4 linked regions of the Homo sapiens genome follow. The protein of the gene in region 1 purifies or fractionates together with the protein of each later gene. This does not show direct contact. Each region holds a gene or a part of one and is shown in the gene's direction. Other genes may lie near its edges.

Evidence for each region. The genes of interacting proteins can lie anywhere in the genome.
Region 2: the proteins of SAYSD1 (region 1) and DNAJC11 purify together in Homo sapiens (affinity purification with mass spectrometry; one large-scale study listed by BioGRID and IntAct). This does not show direct contact.
Region 3: the proteins of SAYSD1 (region 1) and SOAT1 purify together in Homo sapiens (affinity purification with mass spectrometry; one large-scale study listed by BioGRID and IntAct). This does not show direct contact.
Region 4: the proteins of SAYSD1 (region 1) and HSDL1 purify together in Homo sapiens (affinity purification with mass spectrometry; one large-scale study listed by BioGRID and IntAct). This does not show direct contact.

Annotation. Positions count from the first base shown.
Region 1 is NC_000006.12:39,107,876-39,112,800, reverse strand, and holds part of SAYSD1 (SAYSvFN domain-containing protein 1), read left to right. Parts: exon of another isoform or gene 1-3,481; coding exon of another isoform or gene 3,482-3,487; intron 3,488-4,925. UniProt on the Homo sapiens protein: Ufmylation 'reader' component of a translocation-associated quality control pathway, a mechanism that takes place when a ribosome has stalled during translation, and which is required to degrade clogged substrates.
Region 2 is NC_000001.11:6,645,479-6,650,403, reverse strand, and holds part of DNAJC11 (dnaJ homolog subfamily C member 11), read left to right. Parts: intron 1-4,425; coding exon 4,426-4,615; intron 4,616-4,925.
Region 3 is NC_000001.11:179,345,210-179,350,134, forward strand, and holds part of SOAT1 (sterol O-acyltransferase 1), read left to right. Parts: intron 1-2,390; coding exon 2,391-2,488; intron 2,489-3,634; coding exon 3,635-3,733; intron 3,734-4,925.
Region 4 is NC_000016.10:84,127,340-84,132,264, reverse strand, and holds part of HSDL1 (inactive hydroxysteroid dehydrogenase-like protein 1), read left to right. Parts: intron 1-937; 5' UTR 938-943; coding exon 944-1,163; intron 1,164-1,833; coding exon 1,834-2,279; intron 2,280-2,489; coding exon 2,490-2,717; intron 2,718-4,925.

The DNA of each region.
Region 1 (4,925 bases):
CTCAAGACAGCATCCTTGGATATTAATTACCTTTTGTTCATTATCCCCTTTCTTATGAGCACCATCTAGTTGTTGAAGCAACAGATTTTCATGTTGTAGTTGAGATATTCTCTCCTCTACGTAGTCCCACTTTCCAAAGGATTTACTTGGCTTAGGTCCTTTTGTACACTTTATAAAACCAAAACCTTTTCTCTGAGAGAATTTCTTGTGTCATGGAGTTTACTTTTTAGGGTATTGAATTCGAGCTTCGGAAAGTTGCTCAGTTAAAAACTCATTATTATCTTTTAGTTCAGAAATATCAGAACTCATTTTCTTTCTTGTAAAGAAACGTCTTGTGCTCTCTGTAAAGCAAGTTCTAGGTCTCTTTTTGTTTTCACACTTTGATCACACTCACTTATAGCAGCAGCCAGTCTAGCATGGAATGACTCAACTTCAGCTTCCAGTCTTTCCTTGTTTTGATTTTCCTTCTCCAGTTTAGACTTGAGCATTGTATTCTCAGTTTTGAGGTCGTTAAGCTGTTGACCATACTGGGATACTGTTTTTGTTAATGTTTTTCCATTCAGTTTTATAGTCTCTTGAAGGTCATCATTCATTTCTTTAACAATTTCAATGTCCTTTTTCCCTTTCGAGGTTCCTATTTTTTATTGTGTATACTTACATACACAATAAAGGCAATATCTCTCTTCAACAAGCAATTTTCATGCATCAGATCTTTTTTTTTCTTAAAGTATTTCTTCAAGCCTTCAATTCTATTTCTAGTGATCCGATAGTCAGTTTAAGCTGTTCTTTTACTTCAACTTCTTTCCTATGTTGCTCCACTTTCCTTTCTAACTCTTCCCTAATTTTTTCATATAACATATTAGCATTTCTTCTCATCTTCTTCTAAGCTGCAAACTGTAGAGTTCCTGTTTCCATTCTACTTTTTGATATTGAACTGTGACTTCGTTTCTTGTGTTTTGGATAGCTCCTTCAGTACACTAAACTCAGTTTTCATATTTCTTATTGTCTAGTGTAAGTTGTTCACAGATAATTTTTTTTAAGGTCCAGTGACTTTTCACATGAAAGAAATGCATTCTGGACTTCCATTAGGATACGAGAATCATTACAATCCATTCCATATTGCTTAATGAGCATCATAAACTTCTTACAATGAGGGTAAGGTTTCTCATGATCCTCTGAAGCTGTTTCAGAGGGCCGAGTTAAGTCATCAGGTTCATCTCTAAATGAGTTTGCTTTTTGACCTTTTTCTTTTCATTTGACATTTTCTTTGCAGGCCTAGCATACTCTTTGTTCTCCTTCCTAGGAAATCGCTGATGGTAAGTTTTTCCACTCTTTCTTTGTTGAATTAATTTATCATCATCGTCAGCAGATGTACTATCATATACGTTTTTTTGATACTTTTTTTTTTTAACTTTCGTGCTTCTTTCTAGCTTCTTCAACCTGTGGCTGTTTATTTTCACTTTCAAGCTTTTCCTGTTCTTCCTCTGATGTCACTTGTACTTCTTGTTCTGCTTTGGATGTTTGTTCGTTCTTCCTTTCTATTGCTTTCTTCACAACAGAATCTTTCATTTCCATGGTAGGCTTTAGGGAAGGATGTTTTTCAGGAGGCCCTTCTCCCTTTCCATTTACTATATATTTTTTCCTTTTTTATATGAAGGTCCAAGTAAAGACTTTGAAACACTCTCAGGGATACACTGCTTGGTAGTAAAAGTCAAGTCTTCATCATCTGGTTTAGGCCATGAGTCAACACACAGTTTTTTTTTAAATACTGAATGCAGATGCTTCAGAACTCCCAGAATCTTTTGCACTTGCTCCTCCTGTTTTCAAACTTGCATTCTTCTTGGATGCTTCTTCTGGGTTGTCATTTTGAAGACCATTTTCAAGTATCTTTTTTTTTTAATGTTGCAAAATTTGTTGTGAGTGCTTGTCAGACCACCAGAAATAGCATAATCTGCAGTCTGTTCATACATACTCTTGAGTAAAGACAATATTTTGTTGAAGAAGAATGCTAACTATACCTGACAAGCCATAATGTACAACAGGCATGAGAGCTGTTCTTTTCAACCTATCAACAGCATGTACATTTGCTTGTTTCTTCACTAAAATTCCACCTTTTGCTGTGTTTTGCAAACTATAGCAAGTAAAAGTGGTGTGTTTGCATCCTTGTTCAGCACTTCAGTATCCTTGTTCAGCACTTCAGTATTCACATGGTGTGAGGGCAGTTTTTCTGCCAGTAGTGTATTCTCATTATACACAGCATAGTGTAGTGCATTGTTGCTATAGACATCCATAAGATCTGGGTTGGTGCCACATTCTAGCAGAATGATGACACAAATCTCTTCTTGGCAATGTACAGCCTTCATCAAAGGCATCCTGTTTCATTTGTCACCAATGTCAGTCTGGCACTTTCAGTTCACCTGGAGAGTGACCACTTCCACATGGCCATTGGCACAGGCCAAATGTAAAGCAGTCGTGTTCATCCACAGATGAAGGAATACAGAAACTCCAGGATATTTGCACAATGGAATACTCTTCAGCCATCAAACTTTAGGACATCACCCCACTTCCAGCAACGTGGAGAGAGACCTGTTCATCCACAGATGAAGGGATACAGAAACTGTAGTATTCATTCACAATGGAATACCCTTCAGCTGTGCACATATACTGAAATCATATCACCTGGAGCCACACAGTTGAACCTGTTCATCCCTTGATGAAGGGATGACAAAACTGAAATATATATCCAGAATGGAATACCCTTCCACGACAGAAGTGGATGAAATCCTGTCATTTGCAGCCATGTGGAGAAACCTGTTCATCCGCAGATGAAGGGATAAAGAAACTGTAGTATATATACACAAATGGAATACTCTTCATCCAGAAAAATGTAATGAAATTACATCATTTGCAGCCACACTGTTGAACCTAGAGGACATCATGGTAAATGACCTGTCCTGTCCACCCACAGCTGAAGGGATAAAGAAACCACCATACAGATACACTATGGAATATGCTTCAGCCATAAAGCTTTGGGAAATCCTGTCATCCACAGCCATGTGGAGAAACCCAAGAAACCCAGAGGATATTAGGTCCAAGGAAATGAGCCTGGTAGAGGAAGTCCCACACCTTTTAATCTCAGGCATGGAGATTCCAAAAACTTTATCTCCTGTCCATCTACAGATGAAGGGATCAAGAAACTGTAATGTATATGCACAAAGAATACTCTTTGGCCATCAAAATAACTAAACCATGTCATTTGGAGCAACAAAGCCACTGCGGCCTCCATTTGGGCCAAGCTCTGACTGCAATGATGCCTCTGCCCCGACCCGGGCCTCGCTGTGACTGACAATGCCGCTGCATCTTTTCAGCAGTCATTGATGAGGAAGTATCTACATCCTCCTTCCCACTACCAGATTTTGCTTGGAGAAAAGCAGTTTCCTGAAATAATTCTGTGACGAGCTTCTTCCACATTAGGACAAAAATGCTGGTAACTTTTAAAAATTCCTACAGAAACCTCCTGCTTCCCTCTCCAGCCATATCCCAGGCAAGCCCCCAGCACACCACCCTGCCCCAGAACCCATTTCCCATACCCATCCACCACTCCTGACCTCCAGGCCTTGGCTCAGGCTGGCCTTCTGCTCAAAGGCTCTCCTTTGGAGTCGCCTGGCTAAGCACAGCTGTGCCTCACCCCCGCAAAATCTAGTAGTCATCTTGAATTTCTTCCTTTCCCTCACTATCATTCATTCATTCAACAAAAATCTTGTCATGTGCCCGCTGTGTTCCAGCTTTTGTTCTAAATCCTGGGAGACAGTGTAATTAAGACACACAAGTCCTACTCTTGTACAACTTGCATTTGAGCTTGGGGCAGCAGGGAAAGGAGGACAATAAACAAAACCAGATAAATGCTATGAAAGAAAAAAGATAAAACCAGTAGACTGTGATAGTGAATTAGGGGTGAGGGGAGCAGAGTACTATTTTAAATCAGCTGAGCAGGGAGAACTCACTAAGGAGGAGACATTTAACAAGAAGGAACCACCCTGGCAAAAACGGGGACTAAGCCAAGGGCACATACGGTGACATTTTTGCCGTTTGTAGTAGGAGGGGTCAACCAAGTGATATGAGGGGAAGGGAGCATTCCTCTCAGAGGGAACCACAAGTGCAGAGGCCCTAAGGTAAGAAGCAGCTTGATATTTGAGGAATGGCAGTGCCTTCCTTGGGCCATGCCTGTGTGTGATGTAACAGTCACAAACACTTCTTCACCCAGGTTTTACAGCAGAAGGGAACTGGTACTCCGACAAGTTCCAAATGAGGCAGAAGAATGTCCGTATCTCTCCTCTTGTTTGTTCCCTTCGTCAGTTTGTTTACCCCCCCACCCCCACACCCATCTACCTCTAGCTCCCTAACCTTTCTCCTGCCACCCCCCATAAAGGCCCCTAATTAAATAAAATATATTTTGGAGGAGACCATCCTAGGATCCGAGACTGACCTCATCTCTGCCTATCACTAGTTTTATGGCTTTAGGGAAATTACTTAACCTCTCAGTGTTTTCTTATCAGTAAGTTGGGAATAATAATGCCTGCTTCCTGGATTACCAGAGTTCATACATTGGAAGGCTCTCAGTAAATGGTGACATAGGAACATTCTTCTTTTTATACTCCCTAAATGATAAATTTAGTTTATTGTGAATCTCAGCATGTATATTCAGAATGTATTTTGTGTCCATCAGTCCACTATTTCCATCTGACTGCTGTCACCACCCTGGTCAATGTCTGGCTCTCTCTTGCTAGGCCTCCTCCCCAACCTTTTTAGCACCAGGGATTTCATGCTTTTGGTTAGTTCCCTGCTTAGACCTTCAGCTGTTTCCCATTTCCAGAATCTTCACTGCAACCTGCCTGGCCCTACTTTATCTGGCTCCCACCCTCATG
Region 2 (4,925 bases), on another chromosome or scaffold:
TTTAGGGATAAGTTATCTCTATGTTGCCTAGGCTGGTCTCAAGCTCCTGGATTCAAGCAGTCCTCCCACCTTGGCCTCCCAAAGCACTGAGATTAGAAGCATGAGCCACTTCAGCAAGCCTGGAGTATATGTTTTTTGTTTTGAGACAGGTCTCACTTTGTCACCCCGGCTGGAGAATAGTGATGCAATCTTGGCTCACTGCACCCTCAACCTCCCAGGCTCAGGTGACCCTCCTGAGTAGCTGGGACTACAGGTGTGCACCACCATGCCTGACTAATTTTTGTAGAGTTGGGGTTTCTCCTTGTTGGCCAGGCTGGTCTCTTAACTCCTGACCTCAGGTGATCCTCCCACCTTGGCCTCCCAAAGTGCTGGCATTACAGGTGTGAGCCACTGTGCCCAGGCACAGTGGCATGAATAACTTTCTTATCAAACATGTATTGTAGGCTGTACAAACATGTACAAACATGTACAGGAGTTCGAGACCAGCCTGGCCAACATGGCGAAACCCCCTCTACTAAAAATATAAAAATTAACCAGGCATGGTGGCGCTTGCCTGTAGTCCCAGCTACTTGGGAGGCTGAGGTGGGAGGATCTCTTGAACCCAGGAGGCGGAGGTTGCAATGATCCAAGATCACACCACTGTACTCCAGCCTAAGCAGCAGAGCAAGACTGTCTCAAAAAAAAAAAAAAAGTTAGTTATTACACTTCCAATGAGACATGTATCTGTGTGCCTGCCACGCTCTGCAGGGGTTGACCTAATCCCTGCCCACTAGTCTGGTCGTTTGTCTGTGGGGCATGGGGCAGAGAACACAGGCAGGCTTGCAGGTCAGCCTGTTGTAGGGAGAGCAGGAGAAGTTGGGAGAGAGCCTGCGAAACAGGAGGACGTGGCCTGTGGGGCAGGCGGAGGCCGCTTAGGCACCAAAGCAGTGCTTCCTGGCTGAGCACGGTGGCTCATGCCTCTAATCCCAGCACTTTAGGAGGCCGAGGCGGGTGGATCACGAGATCAGGAGATCGAGACCATCCTGGCTAACACGGTGAAACTCTGTCTCTACTAAAAATGCAAAGAATTAGCCGGGAGCGGTGGCGGGCGCCTTTAGTCCCAGCTACTCGGGAGGCTGAGGCAGGAGAATGGCGTGAACCCAGGAGGCGGAGCTTGCAGTGAGCCGAGATCGCGCCACTGCACTCCAGCCTGGGCGACTCTGTCTCAAAAAAAAAAAAGCAGTGCTTCCAGACACAAGAAGAGGAAAAGGAGCCGATGTGACTCACACCTGCAATCCCAGGGCTTTGGGAGGCCAAGGTGGGAGGATTGCTTGAACCCGGGAGGTTGAGGCTGCAATGAGCTGAGATTGCACCACTGTACCCCAGCCTAGGCGACAGAGCAAGACTGCCACCGAGAAAAATTTTTTTTAAAAGATGGAAGGAATGTGGGACATGCTGCCATGGGGCATCACCTGGGTGCTGCTCACAACACAGCTCCACAGTCCCCTGCTCTACGTAATTGGATTCACCTACTGGGTCTGCAAAGGGGACCGGGATTCATACTTAGAAGAGAACAGCAGGGAAACAGCATCTGTATACACATCAGTGTTGTCCTGACCCTGTCTACTTAGATTGGTCACCCCAGATGCTGGTTAAAAGCCGCCTCGGGGGCAGGGTGTGGTGGCTCATGCTTGTAATCCCAGCACTTTAGGAGGCCAGGTGAGACGATCACTTGAGCTCAGGAGTTTGAGACCAGCCTAGGCAACATGGCAAAACCTTGACTCTACAAAAAATATAAAAATTAACCAGGTGTGGTAGCACACACCTGTAATCCCAGCTACTTGGGATGCTGAGGTGGGAGGATCGCTTGAGGCCAGGAGGTCGAGGCTGCAGTGAGCCATGATGACACCACTGCACTTCAGCCTAGGTGACAGAGCAAGACCCTCTCTCAAAAGAAAAAAGAAATGCTGGTCAGGTGCGGTGGCTCATGCCTGTAATCCCAACACTTTGGGAGGCCAAGGCAGGCGGGTCGCCTGAGGTCAGGAGTTCAAGACAAGCCTGGCCAACATGGTGAAACCCTGTCTCTACTAAAAATACAAAAATTAGCCAGGCGTGGTGGTGGGCACCTGTAATTCCAGCTACTTGGGAGGCTGAGGCAGGAGAATTGCCTGAACCCGGGAGGCAGAGGTTGCAGTGAGCCAAGATCGTGCCACTGCACTCCAGCCTGGGCGACAGAGCCGAGACTCTGTCTCAAAAAAAAGAAAAAAAGCTGCTTTGGGTCTTATGAGGGAGGGGACTGGGAATCTAGGTGTTTCAAGCGCCCCAGGTGATTCTTAAGGTCACACAAGCTTGGGAGACACTTCATTAAGCAAAATCTTTTGGCCGTTTTGTTCTGGTTGAGCCTCAGTGTCTATTCATTGAGTGGTCACCAAGAGTTTGGGGTGGACTGATCATCAGCATTTACAGGTTTGGAAATTGAATTTAGTTTTACTACTCAGAGCTTATTAGACTTGAGCAGATTTAAACGGAAGGACAACTGATTTATAAACAAGGGGGTGATGTGTGACCAAGGATGCCAGCTTCTTTTTTTTGTTTGTTTTGTTTTGTGTTTGAGACGGAGTCTTGCTCTGTCACCAGGCTGGAGTGCAGTGGCGCAGTCTTGGCTCACTGCAACCTCCACCTCCCAGGTTCAAGCTATTCTGCCTCAGCCTCCCAAGTAACTGGAACTACAGGCACATGCCACCACGCCTAGCTAATTTTTGTATTTTTACTAGAGACGGGGTTTCACCATGTTGGCCAGGATGGTCTCAATCACTTGACCTTGTGATCCACCCACCTCGGCTTCCCAAAGTGCTGGGATTACAGGCGTGAGCCACCGCGCCCGGCCTACTAGCCCAGTTTCTTAATATATAGTGGCCAGGTTAGTTATGGATGTCTGCTAACCACGGTCCTCTAATCCTTGGATCAAGTTGCAGATGTTCCTTGATTTACGATGGAGTTACGGCCGAATAAGCCATCTTAAATCAAAAATATCGACCTGTTGGCTGGGCACAGTGGCTCGTGCCTATAATCCCAGCACTTTGGGAGGCTGAGGCAGGTGGATCACCTGGGGGCAGGAATTCGAGACCAGTCTGGCCAACATGGTGAAACCCCATCTCTACTAAAAATACAAAATATTAACCGGACATGGTGGTGGGCGCCTGTAGTCCCAGCTACCCAGGAAGCTGAGGCAGGAGAATCACTTGAATCCAGGAGGCGGAGGTTGCAGTGAGCTGAGAAGATCACGCTACTGCACTCCAGCCTGGACGAGCGAAACTCCGTCAAAAAAAAAAAAAAAAAAAAAAGACCTGTCCAGGCTCAAGTGCTCCTTCCTCCTCAGTCGCTGAGACTACAGGGCGTGCCGCTACACCTGGCTAATTTTGTGTCTTTTTTGTAGAGATGGGGGTTTTGTCATGTTGTCCAGGCTGTCCTTGAACTCCTGGGGTGAAGCAATTTGCCTCCTCAGCCTCCCAAAGTGCTGGGGTTACAGGTGTGAGCCAATGAGCCTGCCTACTGTTATTTTAATGGCATAAACATCACCTCCAGAGCTTAGAAAGGAGAGAAAGAAACTTAGGCAATTGATGTGGAGCTCTTTATTAAAGAAACCAGCTGTTAGTTTACCCTTCAGCACCTTGAATGAAGTGTGAATTTCTGTTAGTAAAATGAAATACCTCTTTTCAACCAGAAGATGGGGCTGGACTCCCTTGGAAAGAAACTGCAGAGGCTCTTTTCGGGAACCGGTTTCCTGTGCTCGCTTTGCCTGTAGTTTCTGTCACTAGTACCCAGCTGTGGTCACTAGTACATCAGAAATCACACAGCAGCTCCAAAAATATACTGATGCCTCCACCCAGAAATTCTGGTTCCATAGGTCTGGGGTGTCCTCTAGGTAAGTGATTCTCAAACTCTACTGCACATTGGAATCATTGGGACACTTAGCACTCCAAGCCCACACTGAAGGAATCAGCATGCCGGCGAAGAAGCCACCAGCCGTGATTTGTGGATGAGCCAGGTGATTCCAGCGTGCAGTATGAGCACCACTGTCTTGGACTGCTTAATATGAGACCCTCCGTTGGTGATTCTGACTTGCACTCCTCGGCCCCCATCCATTCTAACTTGAGTGGGGTTGCATCTGCTGGCATAGGAATGCAGACAGTCAGGTGCCTATTTGGTTGTAGCTAAAGTTAGGGCGGCTGAGGGGAGTCGGGAGGTTACTAGGAAGATTCTGGCTAGGACCCTCCCCCTCTGTGTGGATAGAGGCCTGACCTCCTGCTTTTTTTTTTACTGGGAGCTGGCCCAGGGATGCATAGACGTGACAGTAAGTGAGGTCTTAGCCAGGCAGAGAGGAAGTAACAGAACAGCTGAGAGCAGGTGCTATCCAGGACCTATTCTGTCTCTGTGTCTCTCCAGCTTTGTGACAACAAACTGTGCTCTGCAGTTTTCATCCCGTGGAATCCGACCCGGCCTGACCACTGTCCTAGCTCGGAACCTAGACAAGAACACCGTGGGCTACCTGCAGTGGCGATGGGGTATCCAGTCAGCCATGAACACTAGCATCGTCCGAGACACTAAAACCAGCCACTTCACTGTGGCCCTGCAGGTGAGCCGAGCAGCCATCATCTCCTGCAGACAGAGCTCTGGGAGGACCCCTCCTCCCAAGCACTCAGTGCTCCCCTTAAATCCTGCGTCCTGATCACCACTAAGTCTAAGCCCATACAGGGCCCTGAGGGGCAGGCTCTCGGTGCTCACACTCGAGTGACCTGGTGGAACCTTCGAGTATGAAATGCAGTTGCCTTCAGGCGCCTGGGGCAGCTTTGTTGGATCATCTTAAAGCAGAACAACATCTTAATGTCTGGTGGGAGCCACCCACGGAATTGGGGGCGGGCAGATGAAGCCCCATAGCAGAATCA
Region 3 (4,925 bases), on another chromosome or scaffold:
TTGCATCTACTTTATAAATGAAGTATCCTTCATCCAGTCTCAGGTCAGTCTTTCATCTTATGGCTTTCACTCAAGTTGTGCCTTTCTCTGACAGTGGACAGTCCACATTCATGCTGTGTCTTCCTGTTCGCTATTAAGTTCATTGTAATCTTGCTCCTGATTCCACCAAGCCACTTAAATGCCCCTTGTTGAAATTACTAGTAACTTGTAGAAATTACTTGTAGAAATTACTAGTAATCCATATTCTAATCCAGTGGATGGATTAAGATGTACTTTACCCCTTATCCAAGTTGACCTCCATGAAGCATTGGGTGCTGCTGACCACATTTTTAAATCTCTCTTGTCACTGTTTTCTTGCCTTTTTTTTTTTTGAAATCGGGTCTCTCTTTGTCACCCAGTCTGAATGCAGTGGTGTCATCATGGCTTACTAGCCTCGACCTCTGGGGCTCGAGTGATCCTCTCGCCTCAGTAGCTGGGACTACAGGTGCATGCCACCATGCCTGGCTAAGTTTTTATTTTTTGGAGAGACGGGGTCTCCCTATGTTGCCCAGGCCATTCTCAAACTCCTGGGCTCAAGTTATCCTCCTGTCTCAGCCTCTCAAAGTGCTGGGGTTACAGGCTTGAGCCACCATGCTTGGCCTTTTGCCACTATTTCTTATTTTCCTCCTGTCTTTCCGACCATACCTTGATTTCTTAAATATATTTATTGCATTTTTTTGTCTATTATAGAGATATATGAGTACCTAGTACTATGCCAGGTGCAGAGGACTCAGAAGTGAACAAGAGATGTATTATCTTTACAGTCTGGGAGCTTTTATAGTTTCCCTTACTTTTCCTCTTTTCTTTACTCATTGAATGTTGGTAATGTTTTCTGTCATCACCTTCCCTTTCTTTTCTTCTCTTGCATTCCTCTTCCAGTAACCCTCCCTCACCAGCCCCAGGACTTATTTGAATGAACTCTGTATCTGTCCCTAAAATAGAATATGTGTTACATACTTGAGTGTCTTCCTCACTAGCTGCAAAGTTATTGAGTTCAAGGATTGTGTTTTATAGCCAATCACAGTCTCTCTCATATTGTCTGGTACATAGTTGATGCTCTATAAATATATATTTTTCAATAAATGAGTGAAAGAGATGGACATATAAATGGATATTTTACAATATATTGTAATATGTACTACATAAGTAGGATAAACAAAATGCTTATGGCCTTTGTTTCACATTAGAGATAACATTTAATATTGGGTATTGAAAAATAGGTAGGTATTTGCCTGGCAGAGAATTGGTGGAAAGGTCATTCTAGGTAGTGGGATGGATGCAAGGGCATGGAGCATTCTGGAATGGCATAAACCCAGTTGTGGATAATGTTTACAACACTTAGAGGGTAGAATCACTGGAGATATGTTTAGAATGTTATCCATGTCACTATGTTAACCATGTCACTATTAACATTTTGGACTGGTTAATTCTTTGTTTGGAGTGGCATTCTTCTGCATTGTAGCATAAACTGTTCAGCAGCATCCTGGCCTCTAACAACTAGATACCAGTGGCACCACTCCCTCTCCTCCAATTGTCACAGCACTGGTGCAGTAGCTTGCACCGGTAGTCCCAGCTATTCTGGAGGCTGAGGTGGGAGGATCACTTGAGCCCCAGGAGTTGAAGTTCAGCCTGGGCAACATAGTGAAACCCTGTCTTTTAAAAACAAAAAGTCTCTAGAATTTCAAATGTCCTGTGGGGGAGAGGGGGCAAAATCTCTCCCAGTTTTAAACAATTGTTTAAGAGGGGGGTATGGGGGCCAGATTTTTAAAGGACCTTGGGTACTAAGTTAAGCCATATATTTAGGCATTTCTTAAAAACAGACTGGGTAGGCTGGGCGCGATGGCTCACGCCTGTAATCCTAGCACTTCGGGAGGCTGAGGTGGGCAGATCACAAGGTCAGGAGATTGAGACCTGCCTGGCCAACATGGTGAAACCCGGTCTCTACTAAAAATACAAAAAATTAGCCAGATGTGGTGGTACATGCCTGTAGTTCCAGCTACTTGGGAGGCTGAGGCAGGAGAATTGCTTGAACCCTGGAGGCAGAGGTTGCAGTGAGCCGAGATCGCGCCACTGCACTCCAGCCTGGGTGACAGAGCAGGACTCTGTCTCAAAAAAGAAAAAAAAAAACCAGACTGGGTAATGTCATTTGTTGAACCCACTTTGAAGGAAGTTACTGTTTTAAAATTAAGATAATTAACTCCAAAAGTATATCATCTCTGGAATGGGTAAACTGGAATAATAACTTATATTTTACAAAATAATCCCAGCTAAATAAAATGATGTGATATAATTAGTTGCTTGGTATGTGAGCTATTTGGAAAGACTGTTAATATTGTTAATCTTATTTTTAGGTGTGCTGATTCTCTTCCTTACTTTTTTTGCCTTTTTGCACTGCTGGCTCAATGCCTTTGCTGAGATGTTACGCTTTGGTGACAGGATGTTCTATAAGGTAGTATATACTTAGACTTAGCTTTCTTTTTACATTTTATTAACTTCTTCATTATTAGTATTTTGACATTGTTGGCTAATGTCACCAGCCTTTCACACAAACATTGTGAAATAATTTTCTTTTCTACAAGTTTTGCCAGTATTTTCTGAAATTCGGTTACAGATATAACTAGCATAACCTTGTGTTTTCTTCTGTCTCTAATATCTGCTCCCTTAACATAAGCACATGGTTTCTGCTGGATCCTGCAAGGATATATTGGTGATTCCAGTAGGAAACTGTTTGTTCAGAGCACACCATGAGACTTCCCTGAGTGTTCATTCATTTGAAATGGACCGTCTAGTTCTGTAGGAATGACCTCAGCAAATTATTCCATTTAAGACAATTGAGCAGTTCATGAGGGAAATAACTTTTCCCTCTTTAGTTTTGAAAGGTGTTAATTTTGCTTCAGATAGTATCCTTATGCTTCTAAAGTTGGAATTAAGCTATAGAATTAGAGTCAGAATGGCTCATAGCATTCTTTAACCCTACCTAAAGCTCTCTTTGAGTTGTTTTTGGCAACACTCCAAGTCTACCACCTTTTTTCTCAAAGAAACTTTAAGTGTGGATTGCAGATTTTAGATACCTGATTTCATTCATCTGATCTTAATATTGGGAGCAAGAAGCATATATAGGGATACCAGGACTTTGAGGTAGCCACCATCTCACCCTGGATAATTTTGCCATTTATGGTAACCACCAAACAGCTCTCTAGTGTTAGCACTCTCTCTGGTCTTCATGACCATAGAATTTTCTCATGACATTCTAGTAGGGTAAGGGGGGTGGGGCTTACTGATTGCTGTTTAGATGAACATTAGATTTAAATGATTCTATGTGTTCCGTATGAACCTAGGAACTAAATCATATATAGTATGAGAATTCATGTCATATTCAACACTAATAACCAAAATGCCTTTGAAGATTTTTCTGTCACCAGTGTATGAACCAACAGTTTATCACAGTATAATTTGATTTTTCTGTTACATATGTTCTTTGGGAAGTCAGGGGGGTTTGCTTTCGGGTGGGATGTGTGTGTGTGTGTGTGTGTGTGTGTGTGTGTGTGTGTGTGTGTGTGTGTGTGTAGTTTTATACCTTTACTTTTTCCCTCAGGATTGGTGGAACTCCACGTCATACTCCAACTATTATAGAACCTGGAATGTGGTGGTCCATGACTGGCTATATTACTATGCTTACAAGGACTTTCTCTGGGTAAGTAGCAAGGTTTAAGTTGATATTATTTATGAAATGGAGATTCTTTTTCAGAAAGTATGAGTATTATACAGCTGGAAGAAGTTATATTTAATTGCTCATGAGGAAAGGGTGATAGTATCTTTTCAGTTTTCTTTTGAGAAATTTACATCTAGAAACCTGCTTTGAATGGTACTGCTTAGAAACCACTGTGTGTACACTAGTAGGTCTAATACTGTGTCTTTTGCTCTGAATTTTATCTTACATAACAAAGTAAGAATGCATGGAGGTTGTTGGAGTTGAAATGATCCACCAATAATGGATAGTTTCTTATGAGTCTTGTTGCCAACAAATAATCTCCCTTTGGTCTTTTTCATTCGTTTTTCATGGTTAAAGGTAGAGAAACACTTTTTTTTTTTTTTTTTGAGAGAGTTTCGCTCTTGTTGCCCAGGCTGGAGTGCAGTGGCATGTTGTCGGCTCACTGCAACCTCCTCCTCCCGGGTTCAAGCGATTCTCCTGCCTCAGCCTCCCAAGTAGCTGGGATTACAGGCATGCACCACCACGCCCAGCTAATTTTCTATTTTTAGTAGAGATGGTGTTTCTCCATGTTGGTCAGGCTCATCTTGAACTCCCGACCTTAGGTGATCCGCCCGCCTCAGCCTCCCAAAGTGCTGGGATTACAAGCATGAGCCACCGTGCCCGGGTGAGAAACACTTTTCTGTGAGAAACACTTTTGTGTGGATTTTGTATCTCTCCAATCAGTGACACCTGGCTTTGAGACATTCTTTAGAGCAGAATATACTTAGACTGATGAGATGTAATCTTGAATCTCCTGGTTGATAAACAGGTATCTAGATTACAGTTTTTATTAAGTGAGGGCACCATTTGGCTTAGTGACAGCATCTTATGGTGGAAATAGCATTGTATTAATATTTGAGTGCTAATTCTGTCATTCAAGTGTAGTTTCACATACGGATAAGGCAAGTCCCTTTTCTCCTTCTGAAATCTTAGTTTTGTTATGTGTAAAAATGGAGAGGACAGTTGCCCCATCTACCATACAGTGTTACTCTAAAGACTGAAATTCAATATGTTTCATTTATATAGGAAAACTATGTTTTGTCAGTTGTAATAACTTACAAACATAAGTTATTGATATTTTTGAAAATAGACTCAGATATTTGAACAATAATAAGAGTTTGTAAGTGTATATGAT
Region 4 (4,925 bases), on another chromosome or scaffold:
ACAGGTAGTAGGTCCTCCATTCTTGCTGATTATGAATAAAGCAAAGAAATACATGTACCTCTGCTGTATGAATTAGAAGCTTTGTGTTTGTTATTATTAGACTAGGAGCATGTTACAGGCACAGAGCATATTGTGTTTATCTCTGTAGCCACAGCATGTAGTGTAGTACCTGAATTTTAGTGGGAATTTGGTAACTTCTGGTAGTTATGTTGATTAGTCTCCTTGGAAGAAAGTAACTTTATAAGCTACGGATGTTAAATGGTGAGATCATAAATTGGCTGAATCTCCAGGCATGGTGGCTCACACCTGTAATCCCAGCACTTTGGGAGGCCAAGGGTGGCGGATCACCTGAGGTCAGGAGTTTGAGACCATCCTGGCTAACGCGGTGAAACCCTGTCTCTACTAAAAATACAAAAAATTAGCCGGGCGAGGTGGCGGGCGCCTGTAGTCCCAGCTACTCCGGAGGCTGAGGCAGGAGAATGGCGTGAACCCCAGGGGGCGGAGCCTGCAGTGAGCCGAGATTGCGCCACTGCACTCCAGCCTGGGCGACAGCGAGACTCCGTCTCAAAAAAAAAAAAAAAAATTAGCCGGGCGTGGTGGCATGTGCCTGTAGTCCCAGCTACTTGGGAGGCTGAGGCAGGAGAATCGCTTGAACCCGGGAGGTGGAGGTTGCAGTGAGCCAAAATCGCACCACTGCACTCCAGCCTGGGCGACAGGGTGAGACTCTGTCTGATAGATAGATAGATAGATAGATAGATAGATAGATAGATAGATAGATAGACTGAAACTGTGAGCCACGTACATTTGAAAAGTTAGTGTTATTTGAACGTACAATTGACAAGATCTGATGCCCTCAGCTGGATGTCTTCACTCAGACTGTGTATGTTCCTTTAATTTATTAATCAAAGAGGCTCTCTCTCTTTCCCTCTCCCTGCAGGTTGCCATGGCTGCTGTTGACAGTTTCTACCTCTTGTACAGGGAAATCGCCAGGTCTTGCAATTGCTATATGGAAGCTCTAGCTTTGGTTGGAGCCTGGTATACGGCCAGAAAAAGCATCACTGTCATCTGTGACTTTTACAGCCTGATCAGGCTGCATTTTATCCCCCGCCTGGGGAGCAGAGCAGACTTGATCAAGCAGTATGGAAGATGGGCCGTTGTCAGCGGTAACCTACTTTATAATCAAAATAATCTTTTCTGTGAAGTCGGATGCATTATTCAAGGAGCTATTGAATTTAATGTGGTGTTTTTATGGGAACATGCTGATAAAAAAATAAAACTTATGGCTCCTGCCGTGATTATGTTCACATTTCATTTTCTTACTGCTCTCATCTTAGGAAGAACTGGCCTCATGATTGGTATCCTTCCTATTCTGCTCTCTCCTGTTCCCAGTCCTCCTCCAGACCCACTTCCTACTATGTGCTTTTCCTTTTTGTTCTCTGTTTTAAAATTGTCTTGAAAGTGTTGCCACTTTCAGAAATGCTTCACCTATTTTGAATTTCATTTTAATTTATGAAGATTTCCCAGAAAAGCACCTCCTGCCACTCATTCAAGCCAGATAGTAGTTTGAAAACAAATTCCTACTGTGTCTCCTAACCAATATGGTGAATGTAAAATAACTCCCTGTCCGTGTGTCAGGATGTCTGGGAGAGTGTATAGCATGCGCCCTTCACATTCCTCATTCAGCAACAGTGTCCTTGACTTGTAGATACTAGAACCGACTTGATTTCTAGTGTGAATTTTTCTCTGACTAAACCTGACAGGGGGTACTTTGGGTCCATTTTAAGGGTCACACCGTGAAATACACATGCTCACTTTTCCTGACTTGCATCCTAGGTGCAACAGATGGGATTGGAAAAGCCTACGCTGAAGAGTTAGCAAGCCGAGGTCTCAATATAATCCTGATTAGTCGGAACGAGGAGAAGTTGCAGGTTGTTGCTAAAGACATAGCCGACACGTACAAAGTGGAAACTGATATTATAGTTGCGGACTTCAGCAGCGGTCGTGAGATCTACCTTCCAATTCGAGAAGCCCTGAAGGACAAAGACGTTGGCATCTTGGTAAATAACGTGGGTGTGTTTTATCCCTACCCGCAGTATTTCACTCAGCTGTCCGAGGACAAGCTCTGGGACATCATAAATGTGAACATTGCCGCCGCTAGTTTGATGGTCCATGTTGTGTTACCGGGAATGGTGGAGAGAAAGAAAGGTGCCATCGTCACGATCTCTTCTGGCTCCTGCTGCAAACCCACTCCTCAGCTGGCTGCATTTTCTGCTTCTAAGGTCAGATGTTACTTACTGGAAGATGAAATCCTAATGCCACAGAACATTTATTAACAGTTGTTTGGTCTGATTTGTTGAACTCTTTGTCAGCAACTCACATATGCTTATCCTGTATTTTTTCCTGAATTGATAATAAGCAAGTCTTTTTTTCTCCTGAATTTTCAAGTTCACCCAGAATTAAAAGTCTTTTCCTCCCCTCTGTCTCAACAGGCTTATTTAGACCACTTCAGCAGAGCCTTGCAATATGAATATGCCTCTAAAGGAATCTTTGTACAGAGTCTAATCCCTTTCTATGTAGCCACCAGCATGACAGCACCCAGCAACTTTCTGCACAGGTGCTCGTGGTTGGTGCCTTCGCCAAAAGTCTATGCACATCATGCTGTTTCTACTCTTGGGATTTCCAAAAGGACCACAGGATATTGGTCCCATTCTATTCAGGTAGGAGTGTGCTTCAGGTCTCATAATTAGATTAATGCATCATGAACCTATCTCAGTGATACAGAGAAATCTGATTAAAGCCTAAGATGAGAATTGTAAATTCTGACTCTTAAGCCTGACACTTAATAATTTTGGTTAAGACACTAAATTTTCTTTCTTTTTTTTTTTGAGATGGAGTCTGGCTCTGTCACCCAGGCTGGAGTGCAGTGGTGCGATCTCAGCTCACTGCAAGCTCCGCCTCCCGGGTTCATGCCATTCTCCTGCCTCAGCTTCCCGAGTAGCTGGGACTACAGGCACCTGCCACCACGCCTGGCTAATTTTTGTATTTTTAGTAGAGACGGGGTTTCACCGTGTTAGCCAGGATGGTCTTGATCTCCGGCCTCATGATCTGCCTGCCTCAGCCTCCCAAAGTGCTGAGATTACAGGCGTGAGCCACCGTGCCTGACCAAAGACACTAAATTTTCTTTTGTGAAATTATTACCTTAAGAATTTTCAAAAGTTCAATCTATGTGGCACCTTAAAGTGAAATATACTACTTTGGCTGGGGTGTGGTGGCTCACATCTGTAATCCCAGCACTTTGGGAAGCTGAGGTGGGTGGATCACCTAAGGTCAGGAGTTCGAGACCAACCTGGCCAATATGGTGAAACCCTGTCTGTACTAAAAATACAAAAATTAGCTAGGCTTAGTGGTGTGTGCCTGTAGTCCCAGCTACTTGGGAGGCTGAGGCAGGAGAATCGCTTGAACCCTGGAGGCGGAGGTTGCAGTGAGCCAAGATCACGCTACTGCACTCCAGCCTAGGCGACAGAGCAAGGCTCTGTTTCCAAAAAAAAAAAAAGAAATATGCTGCTGTAAGTGGATGTTAGGACTATAAAAATACTAAGTATTTACATGGGAATTTCAAAGTAAAAGATTCTAGTACTGCTTGAGGGTTACCTCTCAGTGAAAAATATAATCCAAAAAAACCACAAAACCACAAGATAGGGCTATATTTCATGCAACCATTTTATCAAATAATATCTCTGTATAGTCTTAGACTAATTTTTTCAAGAAGCATAGAATTTTTATTTTAAGCTTATTGTTTAGGCATGACAAAGGATTGGTACCTTTTAGTACTGTAGAAAGTAACTTTCTTAGATATTTGAAATTGTGATCGTAAGTATTAATTTGAGAATGCATAATTATCTATTACAATATATTTCAGTTCCTTTATCTGGTGTAGTAAAGAGATGTGCCCTAGTTTAGAATTTTTTTTTTTTTGAGATGGAATTCCGCTCTTGTTGCCCAGGCTGGAGTGTAATGGTGCGATCTTGGCTCACTGCAACCTCCACCTCTCGGGTTCAAGTGATGCTCCTGCCTCAGCCTCCGGAGTAGCTGGGACTACAGGTGCCTGCCACCACGCCCAGCAAATTTTTGTGTTTTTAGTAGAGATGGAGTTTCACCATGTTGGTCAGGCTGGTCTCGAACTCCTGATCTCAGGTGATCCACCCGCCTTGGCCTCCCAAAGTGCTGGGATTTACAAGCGTGAGCTGGCAGGGCGTGGTGGCTCAAGCCTGTAATCCCAGCACTTTGGGAGGCCAAGGCGGGCGGATCACGAGGTCAGGAGATCGAGACCATCCTGGCTAACACCGTGAAACCCCGTCTCTATTAAAAATACAAAAAAATTAGCTAGGCGTGGTGGTGGGCGCCTGTAGTCCCAGCTACTCAGGAGGCTGAGGCAGGAGAATGGCGTGAACCCGGGAGGCAGAGCTTGCAGTGAGCCGAGATCACACCACTGCACTCCAGCCTGGACGACAGAGCAAGACTCCGTCTCACAAAAAAAAAAAAAAAAAATACCAGTGTGAGTCACTGTACCTGGTCCGAATTTTTTTTTTTTTTTAATATTCGGAGTTTTCTTAATTATCAAACAGATATTTTTGGGACTGTTTGCATGAAGAGTATTAGATTTGCCACTACCAAATAAACATGTAAGTATATCAACAGTTAATTATGACTTTTATGAAAAGTGAGAGATTAATAAGAAGCAGTTTTGGTCGGGCGTGGTGGTGGCTCACATCTCTAATCCCAGCAGTTTGGGAGGCTGAGGCTGGTGGATCACCTGAGGTCAGGAGTTCGAGACCAGCCTTGCCAACATGGTGAAACCCCATCTCTACTAAAAATATAAAAATTAACTGGTCATGGTGGTGCACGCCTGTAGTCCCAGCTACCTG